Linked DNA regions of Homo sapiens: region 2 is linked to region 1. Evidence: fine-mapped expression QTL. A gene starts in region 1. The other region holds a variant in brackets. All regions are shown on one strand. Distances are between the middles of the regions.

Region 1 (2,911 bases):
CTGATGGTTTCCCAGAATTTATATACTTCAGCATTTCCCAACCAAGAAATTTGAGAGATGTGGTCCAGTGTGGTGACTCATGCCTGTAATCCCAGCACTTTGGGAGGCCGAGGAGGGTGGATCACCTGAGGTCAGGAGTTTGAGACCAGCCTGGCCAACATGGTGAAACCCCATCTCTAATAAAAATACAAAAAAAAAATTAGCCAGGTGTGGTGGCAGGTGACTGTAGTCTCAGTTACTCAGGAGGCTGAGGCAGGAGAATCACTTGAACCCGGAAGGCTGAGGTTGCAGCCAGCCGAGATCACGCCATTGCACTCCAGCCTGGGTGAGAAGAGCGAAACTACATCTCAAAAATAAATAATGATGATGATAATAATAATAATAATAATAATAATAATAAAAACATTGCCAACATTTGCAACTTGGAAAAATTCACTTTTTAAAAAAAATCTGTATTTCAGCTTCTTTTGAAAAATGGACGATCTCACCATGGTGCAGTGGCAGGAAGTGGAGGGCATATTCCTACCTGGCAAAATTCCTTTGAGTCTGGAGCTCAAAGGAGGCCCACTCCTCAGACCAGGTCATGAACTTTCAGTTTACCATCCTCTTACTGATGTACATGATCTGTCTGGGCCTGCTTTAAATCTCTAATTGGTTAGATTTGGTTGCTTAGAACAAGCTCTGGGGAGTAGGTGTGGGGCACTCTGGTTAAACAGGCTACCGGGCAGACCACAACTCTTGCAGTCTGCCTAAATGGGCTGCTGCTTCACTCCTTCCATGCACCACCACCATGTGCTGCTGACTTCAAAATGTTTATGCTTTGCACAGAAAGTCTGTCACTCAGAGGTGTCATCATGTTTTTGTGCGGGAAGTTTCATTAACCCTAATAAGAGTTATAAAGGTCATTTATTCCTCTACATTTAGAATACTACACCTCTTGGGTGGTTGAGTTTGTCTTTGATATGGTTTACTTGAAGGAGGGTGGACATGTACAGGAGGGTTCTAAGGAGCATAGATTCGTTCCACCATTATGAATAATGCTGTAAGTATTTTTGTCAAAGACACTTCCTACTAAGAGTTTAGTCTCCTAAGCAACTGAACCATTGTGGATGGACCCCTGCTGGCCTGGTCCACGCAGGTGCAACCATATAGAATCGGCCCAACACTCAGGGTTCCTGAGCTTTTTTATCCCCGCTGCAGGACCAAGACCCGAACCCTGCGGCTGTGGCCGAGAACGCTGCACTGAGCCTGCGCGCAAAGCCTCTGAGTAAAAGGAGAAAGTAACCCCCTAACTAGGCCTCTGGAGGGCGAAAGCTGCTGCACAAGTCTGCGCAGGCGCGCCCCGCTGACGAACACTCATCAGTGCGCAGGCGCCCATCTTAGTTGGTCTTCTAGTCCGGTAAACAGAGGGCCTGCCCCCGACAGCTTCTGCTTCCGGGTCACGCCTTGACAGCGGCTTTCAACCCCCACCTCAGCCCAGCAATTCGGTGAGTGCGGTCCTTGGAGTGGGTCTACAGCCAGGTTTCCTAACCCAGGGTACCACGCCCAATAACGCTTCCTCTACTCCCTGGTCGAAGTGCTCTAGTTCTCGAGGCTGAGACTTATTTCCGGGCCTTAGAAGGCAGATCGAAGAGGGGGTTGGTCCGCGTCTGAGGCCCCCCAGCGCAAATTGCGTGATTCTCTTTCAGTACCGGACCTACCGGGATTGCTGCGATCTGTTTAGAGCCCGTGCAGAAAGTGACACCGCACGTCCTTGCGTTTCGTGCCCTTGCCCCCCGCCCCCTAGCCTCAGCGAGACAGCTGCCGCGGGCCCTCCCGCAGCAGGTGCGGTGGGGATTACGGGCGCTGCAGGCTCGGCCAAGGTTCTCCCGGGGCGGGAGGGGGCGGGGCCGAGGCCTCCCTCGCATCAGAGCTGTTGTGTCTTCTCTTTTCCAGTTTGCTTTTTTTTTTTTTTTTTTTCAGCTTCTCAGTAAGTGCCCTTTGGTGTTTTCTCTGGATCCCGTAGCAAAAGAAAACGAGGGAGACAGGGCTTTCAGCTCTAGCAGAGGAAAGGGCCTTCCAAGGGGATCAAACCTTACACGGGCTGCTGTCTAGTGAGATCGAATTTAGCTTTCCTTGACCATTCCTGAAGTGAATGCTGTCTGCCCTGAAGTTTCATTCCTTTACCGGGAGCTTCCAGGCAGCAGCAGACCACTGACCATACTCTCAGGAGTTCTTAGCCCAGAGCCCAAGAGCGCCCGGGAAATTAGTTCAGGATTTAGTTTCATCCGATTATCATGGCCCAGAAATGGTTAACAAAACGACTTTATTTATTTATTTTAATTTTTGAATTTTTTTGTAGAGACGATTGGGTTTTGGGGTCGTCTCGCCATGTTGCTCAGGCTGGTCTTGAACTTCCAGGTTCAAGAGTTCCTCCTGCCTTGGCCTCCCAAAGTGCTGGGATTACAGGCAACAGAACCACTTTGGTCCAAGCCTCCTGCTTTAGATGCTCTGTCTTCTGCTGCCATTCTTGGAATTACCAACTCAAATGCACTTGTCTTTTTTTTTCCTTGAAACAAAAAAATTATAAGATACAGATACTTGTCTCAGAGCAGTTTAGTGGCTACTGGAGAGATTAAAACACATGCCAAATCTAAACTATCTAGAAAATGTCATAGAGACATATAAACAAGTGTGTCAGCTTATCCGTGCATGATAACGGGAGAAAAATACCTAATTTGAATTATCGATACATATGAATATTTTTACTTGCATTCTTTTAATGGAATTTACATCTACTATAAATGGCTACTGATTCACAAAATAGAAACTATCAGAATTTATAGTATATAATATATAAAGGGATACACAATCACAAAAAGCAAAAATAGGCCGGGCATGGTGGCTCATGTCTGTAATCCCAGCACTCTGG
Region 2 (2,911 bases), 120 kb after region 1:
CATGGCCCTTAAGTGGCTCTAGTGGGTAAAGGGGGAAGAGTTCACTTGAGAGCCCCAATGTTTTTAATGTTTCAGTTTCTGGTCCTGTGCCATCCCTCCAGCTTTTAAATATGTCTTGCTGGAGTAAGAGAGAGGACTGACACCTGGGGTTTCTTTTTGTTTGGTCCACCTGGATGGACTAGCATGAGGTGGAATATGATGCTTTCACCCTGGGAGTTCACATACCCAAGAGAGTCAGAAAAAGAGGTGTTAGGCTATTAGGCCCTATTGTTAAACAGGCCACGTGCTGAACTACTGGGAAGGGTACCTTATTTTCCCGCCCAGGAGCAATGCATCTACAGCTTGGAATTCCATGGGAAGGGACAAGGCTCATCCCAGCATCCTTTATTATAAGTCTAGGGCCTTGTTTTACCTGTACTGACTCCTAACATCTGTCTACTAAGAACACACACTACCATTCCCAGCTTTGAAGGTGGAAAAGGAAACGTGGGACAGAGGGTTATGCTGGTCACCTGTTAAAATAAAGGATACCTTACACATACTTCCTTTGTGGGAGAGAAAAGAGTGGCTAGGAGGCTTTGAGCTGGGACCTCGAGGAAATGTTATTGTGAGCTGTCTCTTTGGCCTGTCAGGGAGATGGTAGGGATAATTCCAATTATGTGAATGGTTGGACCACGTGTCCAGGGGTCTTATCAAACTCTAAGATTCTGGAATGGTATTAAGTGCCACAATGTTGCTGGGAAGAGGAAGTCAAGGCAGAGATTCAAAGTTAAATTTTTAAGGCCACTGGCTTAGCACTGGCTTGGTTTTAGAGTTAAGGCGACAAGACCTTAGCTGCAGAATTTTCTCCATTCCAATCTAAGGAGTAGCCATCAATTCCTTACTTCTGGAGATTGCCTTATCCTTTGCAGAACACAAGTGCTAGGAAAGGAAAAAGTGTGGGAGAGTGGCACACAAGAAGTCCAGAGTCCAGTCCACTGGAGACCCCTCATTCAATTTACTTTTATTCTTTTCACAAATACCTACTGAGTAATCGTACGCAAATCCTATCTCTTTGATGCCTTCCCTGATCACATGATCTTAATATCTCTCATCTGGACATCTGCAGCCCTTATAATCAGAAAATAATATAAGTCCACATGGTATTTGTATTGTAATTCACCTTTTGCATCATGAATGGACTGAGACATGTAGCCACCAAGGGCAGGTAAATGATTTGGTGCTTTTTTTTCAAACCAGGAATAAAAGCTGTTTCTTTCTGGCCTGCCAGTGATGAGGTAGAGGTAATTATTCAACATTTATTTAGAAAGACAACATTGTGGGCCAGGCATAGTGGCTCACACCTGTAATCCCAGCACATTGGGAGGCTGAGGTGGGAGGATCCCTTGAGCCCAAGAGTTCGAGATCAGCCTGGGCAACACAAAAATT[T/A]AAAAAAAATATATTGTGAAGAAAGGAGGACTGCTCATGGCAGCCTGCAACCTCCTTTGTGGTCCCAAATCGTTCATCTCTGGCCTCAAACCTAACGCTCCACTCTACCCTTAACAAAAACACCTTCCTCAGCATTTAGCATGCTCTTTGGGGTGGGTGGGGGTTCTCAGTCTCTACCAGGGGCCTTGTGGAAGTATTTTCTCTACACAGCTTTCTGTTAAATAGTTTCCTCCATCCTTTTTATTTCCGGTGATATTGTGCATCCCTCATAGACTGAGACTCTGAGGAAGCCCCTCAGGCTAGGTGTTTTACAAGCACGTGTTTAAGCACTGGCCTTAGTCGCCCTGAAGGGTGGAGTGAAAAGATGGTTTGACTATGGAAATAAAAGCCACCTTGTTCTCAGGTTTTTATAGCCTGCTGACCTTGTCCTCAGGATCTTAGAGTCTGTATTAGAGTCTGTAGACCTTATAGTTAACTAATTTAGGAAGCTAAGCAAACACCAAGCAATATACCTTATCAAGAAGGCAGACTCATAGGCATGTAGTTCCATACAGAACTAGAAGTAGAGGATGAAGGGGCAAAGGTGGAGGTAAGTCAGGGATAATGTTGCCTTTATCTGCCTATCTATATGATTCTTCCTAATTTTTAAAAAGTTGACTTATTTAAAATAAACTGTGGATCTTGCTTTCTTGCTTTGACTGGAAACTCCCTGGTAAAAAGGACTTGATGGTGTTTGTCTCTCTGTCCCCCTGTCTCTGTGGCTGTTTGCTCTGTCTCTGTCTGTGCCTGTGTCTCCCGATCCAAGCTGGACCAGTGATTGGATCCTCGGTGTGGTCTGGATTTCTGAGTCCACCCCTTACCCAGGAGTCTGAATACTGTTCATTCATTTATTTCATCCCATATACCTGGAAGTGAAGCCTGGAACGCAAATAACATGCAAATTTGTGGCTCTTTGGCACTTTAAAAAACCAAACCTGTCTGTGGAGGCTGCCAAAGAACTTTCCTGAGGCCAAACACACCAATCAGGACTTCCAACCCACCCTGCTAACTGTGGCCTTCTGTTCTTGCTCCTCTCCTGCACCCCTTTCTTCTCACAATATAACTTCGAAGTGAAGTGCTTGCCACTTTTCTACCTGTAAAACTCACACTCATGACAGTAAAACATAAGAAAGCACCAACTTCTCAAAAATCTATTATTTTGGGGGAACAGTTTTCTCTATGTTGGGTTAGAAGATCCTCTTCTTGTCCCCAGGATGTTCTCAAATTCTAAGGTTTTCTTTTAGTCATGGTTAAGACTTTGAAGCCAATTGAATATGGAGTGACTAGGGAAATCTTCAAGCCACGTTCGCTCTCCTGATTCCTGAATGTGGTTAAAAATAGCTGACGAATGCCTGGGTCTGCACCAGGTATCACCAGTCAGGCAATAGACTGTCCCTGCGAATGGGGACCTGGACCTAACCATGGGTCAGAGTCAGCCTTTATC

Evidence for each region. PIP is the estimated chance that this variant, and not a neighbour inherited with it, causes the effect. A credible set is the group of variants that fine-mapping cannot tell apart.
Region 2: its variant is the best candidate, but not a certain one, in a credible set for the expression of ASB8 in whole blood (INTERVAL, PIP 0.55).

Annotation. Positions count from the first base shown.
Region 1 is chr12:48,156,035-48,158,945 of GRCh38, reverse strand. ASB8 (ankyrin repeat and SOCS box containing 8) reads left to right here and starts at 1,431. Exons shown (of 4, transcript NM_024095.5): 1 at 1,431-1,487. RefSeq lists enhancers at 1,251-1,470, 1,501-1,550, 1,571-1,620, 1,125-1,647.
Region 2 is chr12:48,039,474-48,042,384 of GRCh38, reverse strand. No RefSeq gene overlaps it. Among named protein-coding and RNA genes, the nearest start is that of COL2A1, 36 kb to the right of the region's middle. The variant T/A (reference allele first, on the strand shown) is at 1,429.